2 separate regions of the Homo sapiens genome follow, and region 2 is linked to region 1. Evidence: fine-mapped expression QTL. A gene starts in region 1. The other region holds a variant in brackets. All regions are shown on one strand. Distances are from middle to middle.

Region 1 (5,373 bases):
TAACTCCTATAGAGTCACGGGAGTTTTCACTGCTCCTCCCATTTACTTAGAGGAAACCCCTTATTTTCAAGACTGTTAAAAACCATCCTGCTTTCATTTGGGTTCGGTTGGTTTTAGTGGCCTAACCTACAATTCCAGGATATGTGTGTCTGTGGAATGGGGGTGGGAGCAGCCTATGTGCAATCTGAAGGAGGGGTGTGGAAACTCTTCTGGCTGACTCCTGACTCTGCGGAGTGCAAGCTTCGGAGAGGATGCAGATGCATGCTGTTGAAACCATTGCTCATTCCTCTATGTATGCCTCTCAGATGCTGCGTCTTTGGACACACAGGAACAATCGGGCCTCTGGACTTGCAATTATGTTCCTAGATAACCAAAAAGTCCTCCTTTTTTTTTTTTTTTTCCTTTTTTTCTATTTTTGAGAAGACAGGTTCTCACTCTGTCACCGAGTCTGGAGTGTAGTGGTGCAATCTCGGCTCACTTCAGCCTGGACCTCCTGGGCTCAGGTGATCCTCCCCTGTCAGCCTCCTGAGTAGCTGGGACTACAGGCCCACACCACCACACCTGGCTAATTTTTGTATTTTTTGTAGAAATGGGGTTTCTCCATGTTGCCCAGGCTAAGTCCTCCTTTTTGAGAAAATTCCATGGTCTCAGAGAGGGTGAGGCATATGGTGTACCCGCTTCTCAGTCCAAACCAGGCCTGTGAGAAACTGTGAAAGGCAAAAGGCTGCCAGAGAGAGATGGGAGATACCGGCTATGGGGATGAGAAAAGAGCTGGGAAAGTCTAGAGGCCGGCCCCATTGCTACCCCACCAAGCTTGGTAGGGGCAGGCTCCAGCCGCAGGCGGAAAACGCCGGGCGACACCAGAGTTGGGAGGTGAGAGAGAGGCCCCAGCCGCTGGGGAAGGAAATTGCGGGTTCCCGTCTGCCTTGTCTCCAGCTTCTCTGCTGAAGCCCGGTAGCAGTGAATGCGCGCTGACTTTCAGCGACGACTCCTGGAAGCAACGCCAAATGCTGACTGAAGTGGGAGATCCTGCGCCTCTCCATCCGGGCTCCCCAAGTCCTCTGGGCAGAGCTGCAGGAGGCGGGGACCAGTACCCTGCTTCCAGCTCCCCAGAGTTCATGTTCGTGCTCCCTGGGGACCTCCAAGCCTGAGACACAGGCTCCGGGGAGGTCAGGCTTGGCTGAATCACACTCATCCGGTGGCTTTTCCATTGTTCTTTTTGCATTCGCCTGGGATGCTAGCTTCCTGACATCCTGGTTGGATCCTAATTTGGGGCGGGGGTGAAGGAAGGGGGCAAAAGTAGCCTCTTGTCCAAAGAGGCCCAAGGTGAATTCACAACACTGTGGTTGCCTTCAGCACCAGAACACTTCCAACTGTAATAATAAAGACTAGATTTCCCTGGGCCCCTCCGCAGTCCGGCAGAGAATTCGGCGTTTCAGAGGCCTGACAAGTCATCTTTTCTTGCCGCAAGGTGGGAGAGCTGATTCTCCCGGGCCTCGCGAAAACAACAACAAGAAATCTTAACAGGCTGTGGGCCCCCTAACCTAAACTTTCAGGTTTGGAGACTTCTAAGGGCCTGGCTGTCGTCACGACTGGCCTGCTTGGCCTCTCAGTCTGTCCCCCGCCCCCGGGACCCAGCTCTTTCCGGCTTCTTTGCAAAAGGATAGAACCGTCTCGACCAGGGCACTAGGACTGGAAGATCGGGCTGTGTCTAGGCCGCTGTCCGCGAAATCCGAGACGTTTTTTCAGCTTGGCTAGGACCGACTTCGCTGCCGGTTTGAGCTTTCTCTGCACTCGGGGGTCTCCTGCCGTCCTCGACCGGTGGCGTAACTTGGGAAGAGGTGTGGGAATTAAGAATGGCCAGGAGCGTTGGATTTTTTAATTCCTTAGAAATCCATGTTGAATGCAGTCCTTAGAGATCGCAAAAGGCAGGGGGCGGCCAGGGGGGAGATCAGCTGGCCGGGAAAGCCATGGTCTTGAGGTAACGGGATTTGCAGGGAATTTTGAAAAAGCTCCTTCTCTTCTGTTAAAGTTCCTAGCTGTTCTTGCCTGTCACCTCTCCATAGGTTCTCTGCAACAAGAGCCCGGAACAGGCGAAGCGCAGCCCAGCGTTCGGGCCGTAGGGAAAGAGAGTATTTGCGGCGTGAGGGGGCCCAGCTGGAATACGCCTGAGGAGCTCGCCCTAAACCCCGCGCTCCGCCGCCCGCCCCTTGCTCTCAAGGCGCCTGTGTCTCCTTCTCCACCAGGTAGAGCTGGAAGGAGGAAGCGGTCTTTGAATTTTCAGTTACAAGACCCTGGTTAGTAACAGGGCTTTCTGTTTGCTTGTTTGTTTGTTTCCTTTTGCCTTACCCAGATTTGCTTAGAAAACGTTCAGTAGGAACATTAAAACCTGTGTGGCGAAATCCAGGAGGAACCAGAATATTCTAAAGCACCTAGGGGCTGACGCGAAATTATCAGAATCGTTTTCTGGCATTTTGGACAGGTTAACATTTTGTCAGAGCCCCAAAATTCCAGATCTGCAACTAAAGTGACTCTGGACTTGCAGCGTCTATGAGACCAGCAGATCTGGAAGAAAAACGTATGGATTTGGGATTTGCAGGAGTTTGTAAAGGCGCAGATCAGACCTCAACTTTCAACTGTCCTACCTCCCTCTTGGAGTAACCCATGGGGAAACCGGGAAGCCAGGGGTTAAAGTCGGCCCAGGAGCATCCAGGGGACGACTGGCGCTGCGCTTTGGCCCGGGCCTCAGTCTCTCCCTTCCTCTCATTGGTTCGCGCTCTCGGAGTTTCTCTTGTTCCCTCCTCGCTATTGGTTGGGGGCTGGCTTTTTTCCCCCTCAGTCTTTTTCTTCCTCCCCCTCCCTCTCCCTCACCCCTCGGACAGGAGCGCACCGCCTGCCCCCTGTTCCTCGGGAAGGGAGGAATTTAGCGGAAAAAAAAGTTTCCCAGAAGTTTGGATCACAGGGAGGACGGGAAGGCAGAGAGGAAGAGAGAGAGAGGGGGAGGAGAGAAAAAGAGAGGGAGGGGAGAGAGAGAGAGAGAGAGAGAGGAGAGAGAATAATAATAATAACAAAAACAAGATGAAGTTCAGTGGACACAGTCTGTGAGCGCCTGCCCCGGTGGGTGGGAAGCAGGACTCGGGCGCTCATGCAGCGAGCGGGCGGCGCTCGGGGCGCTAGTTCCTAGCAGCTGGGCCAGCGTAGGGGCGCAGGTCGGATCCGGCAGAGGAGGGCGGAGGAGGACGCAGGGGGAGGGTGGAGAGACCCGCGAGCCGCAGTCTCAGCCTCGTCCGACGCGCCTCCGCCTCTCCCGGGCCGGGCCCGGTGGGCGCTCAGAGCTTGAGGGCGCCGGCTGCTCCCTCGGTAGCGGGGGCAAGCGGAGGCAGGGGTGTGGGCGGCTAAAATGAGTGAAAGGAGAAGATCTGCAGTCGCCCTGAGCTCGCGAGCACATGCCTTCTCCGTTGAAGCCTTGATCGGCTCAAATAAAAAACGGAAACTGCGAGACTGGGAGGAGAAGGGGCTGGACCTGTCTATGGAGGCGCTGAGCCCCGCGGGCCCACTCGGAGACACGGAGGACGCGGCGGCACACGGCCTGGAGCCTCACCCGGGTGAGTGCGTCGCAGCCGACCGCGGGAGGCGGGCGGAGAGGGGACGCCGAAGGGCCAGTCGCCGGTCGCGGGTGAGGAGCTAGGCCCTGCCATTGACGCCCTGCCTTGCCCCAACATAGGTTTCTGTTTCTTCGCGCAAATGCCCTGAGCCTCCCTAAATTCACCGGAACCAATTTTTGGGGCTGGACTGAGCCTTGCATTTTCGTCGCCAGCCTAAGCAAGGAGTCCTGTTTGTTTGCATTTCTTTTTCTTTTGGGTGGAGAGCGCAGCTTTCTGGGTGTCCGTGGATGAAGGGCTGCCGGTCCCTGGGATTGGGAGGGGCGCGGGCCGAAGGCAACGGCGGGAGCCGAGATCTAGGACTCGCTTCTGAGAACTCGGGAGGACTGGCGCGGCGTTCTCCAATCCAATACCTCAGTCTTCGGGGAATGACCAGTTGTCTCATTTAGCCTTCAACCTCGTCCTTGCCTTTCTCCCACCAACTTTTCGATGGTGGAACATAATTATATTTCTACTCCTTTGGCGTTTACGGAAACAAGAATGGATGTTAGACCCCTTACTCCTTGGGTCACTCTTCAGGGCCCACATCTCTGTGTATTTAGGGTGTGGGTACGATTGATTTGTGTCTCAGATCCTACAGTAACCCATGTATATTATGTGCACGGAACATGTAAAAAGCAGGGGGGATGTCATGTCTGTATTTTAACAGAACCCTAGGAGGGGAGAAGCCAACTTTAACGTTTTGTGTTAAGTGCCAAGATTTCAACTGTGCAAAAACAGCCCGGGGGAACAGCTGTTGTCGGAAGAATCTTGAGTGTGCGCGCGCGCACATACAACGCTCGCAACTTGGTTTAGCGGTTTCAGAAGCTTTCCAGCCCGGACTTCTAAAACCATGCTGGAAGGTGCTCCTGCTGAACAGCCAGAGCTGGGGAGTAGACCCCGCTTCACACGCTGACAAGCCCGGGGAGGGGGCAGCGGCCTGCACTGGGATAGAGACGGTCTGGGGCTCAGGAGCTTGGGGATCTCAGCCACAAAGCTGTCCAACTCAGAGGAGGGACAGCTGTCGCTTACATTTTCTCTTTAGGCAGTGACAGTTCAATTTCCATGCTCCCGAGGCTAATAATAATGCGATTAGCGGGTGACCTGCAGAGATAGAGTTTTATGAATTCTCCGTGTTTTTGTGGCCCGTTACGGTATTTGAGTTTAGTGCTGGGGAATTATTTTTATTAGTCGATGAAAAGAAAATTAAAAGGAGATTTATTTCGACCGTCCAAGCCTTTTCCTGTATTTGAATGCAAGTGCTTGTCCACGCGGACCCCTGCGTGGGCATTCCAGAAAGGCACCCAGGGCTACTGTGTGTTTCCCTTCGCTGGCCAGACCCTATTTCCTCAGCTCATTTATCTATTGTCAAAATCTCGCGTGGGCCTTCATACAGTTAGAAGTTCTTGCAGGGGTTATGACGCCTTAGAATTTGTAAGGTTCTTTTATTTTCCCCACGGCGGAAAAAACAGAAGTTGTTTAGCTGCGCGTGGCAGACGTCCTGTCCCGGGGAAGTTTTCTCTTGGGAGGCCCCAGATCGCACGGAGCCCGTCTAGGGCCTTATGTTCAAATGGGTAATACATGGGGTCATAATTAGAGATTCAGATCAGAGTTTGCTCTTTCTGCCGTTCTCCTTAGCCTGAGCTCCATTCAGGAGGCAGAAGAGAGAAAACTTAGGGAATGAGGCAAAAAGAAACCATTCCAGAGCGTGAACCTGGGGAGCTAAGCTCAT
Region 2 (5,373 bases), 44 kb before region 1:
AGATCTATTTCCTTTCCACCTTCTCTAGAAGCAGCTACAATTACAAATTTGGGGAGGAGCTTCCAGTATGTTTTTTTACTTATTATTACAGATATATTTCCATAGGCACTTGTAAAATTTACGTAAATGTCAGTGTATTTCATGTTTTCTCCAACTTGCTTTTTTCATCCCACATAGTTTTTGATAGCCATCTACATTGTACTTATAGATTTTAAGTTCTCTGCAACATATTAATTGTCCTGTGATTGCAATGTACTTGAAAATGAAGCTTACTCCAAAGAATATTGAATTACTCCCTATGTGACAGGGAGGAAAAACTCTTGCCTGAAGAACTTTCTGCTGCCTTTGATTTGAAGAGTGGGGTGGGGTGTCTTTCAAGTATGAGCTGTAGTTCTGAGGTAAAGAGCATCTGGTCAGGGCTGGGAATAATATGTGCTGACTGGGTGAGGGAATGAGGAGTAGTTTTAAAACACAATTGTGCCTAGAGCATATGCTATTTAAAATCCCATTCCTCCCTCCCAGCAAGATCCTGTCATGCTGGTGTTGATGGCTGTATTCCCCTGCTGTGGAAAAAACACAACTAGAGTAGAGAAACATCTCTTTGGCTTTTGTCTGATCCATAGATAAAGACTTAGGTCTAAACATTCCCTCTATAGTTGGTGAACATTTGTTGAATACCAACAGTGAAATATTCACAGGAAATGCAGCTGCTTGCAATATCATTTCTGTCTCTAAGAAAGAGCCTTGCTGTTGTTTTTCTGTCTGTCTTTTATTAAAGGTCCACACACGTTCCTGTTGGGGAGGATCAAGTCCAGCACATGGAACTAGTTCAGGATCTAGCACAAGGTTTCAACAAGAAGTATGGGGAGTTCTTTCCAGTGCCCGAGTCCATTCTCAGTAAGTAAGAAACTTATAATTGTTACATCAGGGTATATTCTAAAGAGAGGATTGGACAATAGATAGGCTTGGAACTTTCTTGGGACTAACCTCAGCTTTCTTGTAGACAGGCTTCAGGATCTGTAACTAGAGTCCTCATTGTTTTCTCTAGTGTAGGACTAGAAAGTAGACTACGTTGGATTCCTGAAAAAGATGTTGGATTATTGAAAAGGATAACTAAAAATATTTTAAAAGTATGGAAGAGACCAAAAATTTAAAATAATATTTATAAAGTAGTATATAATTTATGAAGTATGAACAGATGCTTCTTGACTTATAATTGGGTTACATCCTGATAAAGCCATTGTAAGTTGGAAACACTGTTAATCAAAAATGCATTTAACACACATAACCTACTGAACATCACAGCTTAGCCTAGCCCACCTTCAGCGTGCTCAGAACACTTACATTAGTCTATAATTGGGCAGAATCATCTAACACAAAGCCTATTTTATAATAAAGTATTGAATATCTCATGTAATTTATTGAATACTATACTGAAAGTGAAAAACAGAATGGTTGTGTGGGTATTTCAAGTACAGTTTCTACTGAATGGATATCACATTTGCACCACTGTAAAGTTGAAAAATCATAATTCAAACCATTGCAAGTTGGGAACTGTCTGTGTGTACATCTTGGTGATCTGTTTGTTTTGTTTTTGTTTTGGGTATGTGTGTGTTGGTGTTTTTAACCTAGCATCCATGAAGAAGGTAAAATCCCTACGTGATCCTTCTGCCAAAATGTCGAAATCAGACCCTGACAAACTGGCCACCGTCCGAATAACAGACAGCCCAGAGGAGATAGTGCAGAAATTCCGCAAGGCTGTGACAGACTTCACCTCGGAGGTCACCTATGACCCGGCTGGCCGCGCTGGCGTGTCCAACATAGTGGCGGTGCATGCCGCGGTGACGGGGCTCTCCGTGGAGGAAGTGGTGCGCCGCAGCGCGGGCATGAACACTGCTCGCTACAAGCTGGCCGTGGCAGATGCTGTGATTGAGAAGTTTGCCCCAATTAAGCGTGAAATTGAAAAACTGAAGCTGGACAAGGACCATTTAGAGAAGGTTTTACAAATTGGATCAGCAAAAGCCAAAGAATTAGCATACACTGTGTGCCAGGAGGTGAAGAAATTGGTGGGTTTTCTATAGGAAGTTTCAACGAATCACAGCAAGGCTTTTGTGCCTTGCACTCCATGCATTCTGATAACGGCAGCTTTCCTAAAAAGAAAAAGTTATAGTTTTGGGACATTTAATTTGGTATAGCTGATTATTGGCTTTATTTGATGAATATTGCTTTGTAGCTTTGAAATACGACAGTGTTCCAAATCCCATCAACAAAATGCTGTGAACAACAACAACAAAAAATAAATCAAGAAGGCATAGCTGTCTGAATCCCCAATTATTGAGGCACACTCCTTGGCCTGCAGAAATGTGATTGAAGTAAGGAGTAATTTGGGAAATGGAGTATCATTTGTGCTTCTCTCTGGAGTACTTACTGTAACAGATGCACACGTTATCTACTTCAACCCTTTTATAAAGCAATATATAGAGGTCTTAGATGTATAATCCTTGAGATGCCATTTGATCAGATGCCAATTTGTATTCAGAGCTCATAAAAACAAGTCCATTCTTATAGTTTGTTTGTCACTGAGACGGTGCCTGATTTAATATATTTAAGCTGCTTAACTTGTTTTCCAAGAGATAACACCAACTGTTCCAGCAATAATTTGTTTTTTAATTCAGAGATATGGGATATGATCTTCTAAGGAGGTTGCATTATTTTGACCTGATTTATTTATTGTACAAGAGCCCAAGTCCCTGAATTATATTCTTAATAAGTGCTTTCTTGCATTCATTTCAGTTTAGTCTCACCAACCCCCTATGAATTAGGAGAATTATTGTCATTTTACACATGAGGAAAGTGAGGCTGAGAGAATCCAATTAGCTTGTACGATATCACTCCATAAGAGAAGCAAATCTGAGAGTAAAACCCTTACCCCTTATTCTTAAGAATAGTGCTTGTTTATTCAGTACAAAAAAAATGCTGAAAGGCAGCGTTTTTTAGACTCTAAACATTCTGATTTTGAAGGTGGGT[G/A]TTGGAACGACTGATGATGTTTTTTATATCATCAATTCAGCCAATGGATGCGAACTTAAAATCTGGATTCACAGAACCGTGGTCACATTTCCCCATCAAAATCCCCAAGGCGGGTCCCAAGTTCTCTCCTCTACGCTCATTGCAGAAATACTTTGAAATAGGTTCTGCCAGTCTACAATAGCAGTGAAGACTGACAAATCAGATATTCCCAATGACTGACAGCTTCTCATCTTGCCTCTACCTCAGTTAAGTAATGTCACCCTGAAACCTAGCTTTTCTGCACTTCCATTTCTGACACCTGAAAATGAAAATGATAATCCTAACTTATACACCAAGACCTGTTAGCAAGATCGATTTTGTAACAGAAATTGCTTATAAGTTTTTTATCAGTAAGGACCATGATCACCATTTGTACATACATAACTAGGTTGTTGAGCAAAGCATTTTTGCTCATGTTTCTTAAGGAAGTAGAGTAGTCCTTGTGTCAGAACACATGTTAATCCACAAAACGCCCCATCCCAGATTCCAAATTAAAACATCGTTTTTAGGATTCTTGGAGCTAGCCTGGATCATGGGTAAAGGAAACATTTTGCCTTTTGTATCTTATACTGGAATGGGATGTCTGTAAGTCCTAGAACCTCTTTGAGCATATTTCTTACAAGCCTCTGTTTTTTCCCCTTTAAAGGAAACTTTGAAAGGATTGTGAATACTGGAAAATGACAAAACTAAAGGTAGATCTATCAAGCCAATTGTCTGTTTATCTGTTTGTGTGGTTTTTACCCCCTTGCAATACCTTTCCTCCAAAAAATTAAGGCACTATGGAAAGAATCTCAGAGGAGAAAAACAGATAACTTGTGATAACTTCCAGGGACCGAAGTCTATGCATTGGTGAGGGTGGACTTGTTTGCAACCTGTTGTTATTTTTTTTAAGTGACCCAACTGTTCAAGTCCAAACTTGGCCCATAATTATTAAGAGAATCTTATCCGGTTAATCAGTATTAATCAGGATTCTTCAGAGAAACAAAACCAATAGGATATATATCTATATATTAGAGAATTTATTATGGGGATTAGCTCACCCAATTATGAAGGCTGAGAAGTTCCATGATAGGCTATGTGCAAGCTGGACCCAAGAGAGATGATGGTGTGATACAGTCCAAGTCCTTAGGCTGGAGAACCAGGGGAACCAATGATGTAACTGTCAGTCCAAGGCTGAAGGCTTGAGAACCTGGGGGCCACTGTAAGTCCCAGAGTCTAAAGGCCTGAGAACCAGGAGCTGTGATGTCCTAGGGCAGGAGAGGTGAAGTTCCAGCTCAAGAAGACAGCAAATTTGCCCTTCCTCTGTCTTTTTCTTCTAGTCAGTCCCTCAACTGATTGGATGTCAGCCCACATCGATGAGGGCGTATCTCCTTTATTGAGTCTACTGATTCAAAGGCCAATCTCTTCCAGAAACACCCTCACACACGCGCTCAGAGTAATGCTTTACCAGCTATCTGGATATCCCTTAACTCAGTCAAGTTGACACATAAAATTATCCATCACGGCCGGGCACGGTGGCTCACGCCTGTAATCCCAGCACTTTGGGAGACCGAGGCGGGCGGATCACGAGGTCAGGAGATGGAGACCATCCTGGCTAACATGGTGAAAACCCCGTCTCTACTTAAAATACAAAAAAAAAAAATTAGCTGAGTGTGGTGGGGGGCGCCTGTAGTCCCAGCTACTAGGGAGGCTGAGGCAGAAGAATGGTGTGAACCCAGGAGGTGGAGCTTGCAGTGAGCCGAGATCAAACCACTACACCCCAGCCTGGGCAACAGAGCGAGACTCCGTCTCAAAAAAAAAAAAAAAAAATCCATCACACCCAGTGATCTCAGGAAGTTGATAAAAGAGCCAACAAGTATGGAATCTAGATCTATTTTCACATCCCTTCCACTTATTGTTTATAGGCCCTTCACAATCTTTCTAATGGAGATGACACATTGGAGAGAAACCTAATTTTTTTTTTTCTGTATGTTTTGTGGGAAGTTGAAATGGTGAAAAATATTTCAGGTGGTAATAATAATGGTCCTGTAACTGGTGCTCTGAAACCCTGCTTCAAACCGACTTTGACAGCTGGTCACTCAACACAGTGGGGGTGTCTTGCCCTTTGTAGGTGACCCATAAACATTTATCAAAAGTATGTGTCAAAAAATGGGCTAGAGATTTCTAATAAAGTGTGAATTTTTTTTTGCAAAAGCCCTACTGATGTACACCATCAAGATGCTTATCATAATAACACTATTGAGTTCTCATTGTGTATCAGGCACCATACTGAATGGCTTATAACAGTGTTTTTCCAAGTGTGGTCCC

Which allele goes with the higher level. Positions count from the first base shown, and alleles are read on the strand shown. Sizes are in standard deviations (SD) of each study's normalised expression.
With allele A in place of G in region 2, the expression in visceral fat of the gene that starts at base 2,853 in region 1 is higher (small effect, 0.19 SD a copy in GTEx).

The links. PIP is the estimated chance that this variant, and not a neighbour inherited with it, causes the effect. A credible set is the group of variants that fine-mapping cannot tell apart.
Region 2: its variant is the best candidate, but not a certain one, in a credible set for the expression of TBX15 in visceral fat (GTEx, PIP 0.54).

What each region holds. Positions count from the first base shown.
Region 1 is chr1:118,985,823-118,991,195 of GRCh38, reverse strand. TBX15 (T-box transcription factor 15) reads left to right here and starts at 2,853. Exons shown (of 8, transcript NM_001330677.2): 1 at 2,853-3,605. The coding sequence starts at 3,401. RefSeq lists enhancers at 2,920-3,452, 3,453-3,986, 5,306-5,373.
Region 2 is chr1:119,029,619-119,034,991 of GRCh38, reverse strand. WARS2 (tryptophanyl tRNA synthetase 2, mitochondrial) reads left to right here. Exons shown (of 6, transcript NM_015836.4): 5 at 779-897; 6 at 1,633-3,776. The coding sequence ends at 2,081. Among named protein-coding and RNA genes, the nearest start is that of WARS2-IT1, 15 kb to the left of the region's middle. The variant G/A (reference allele first, on the strand shown) is at 3,028.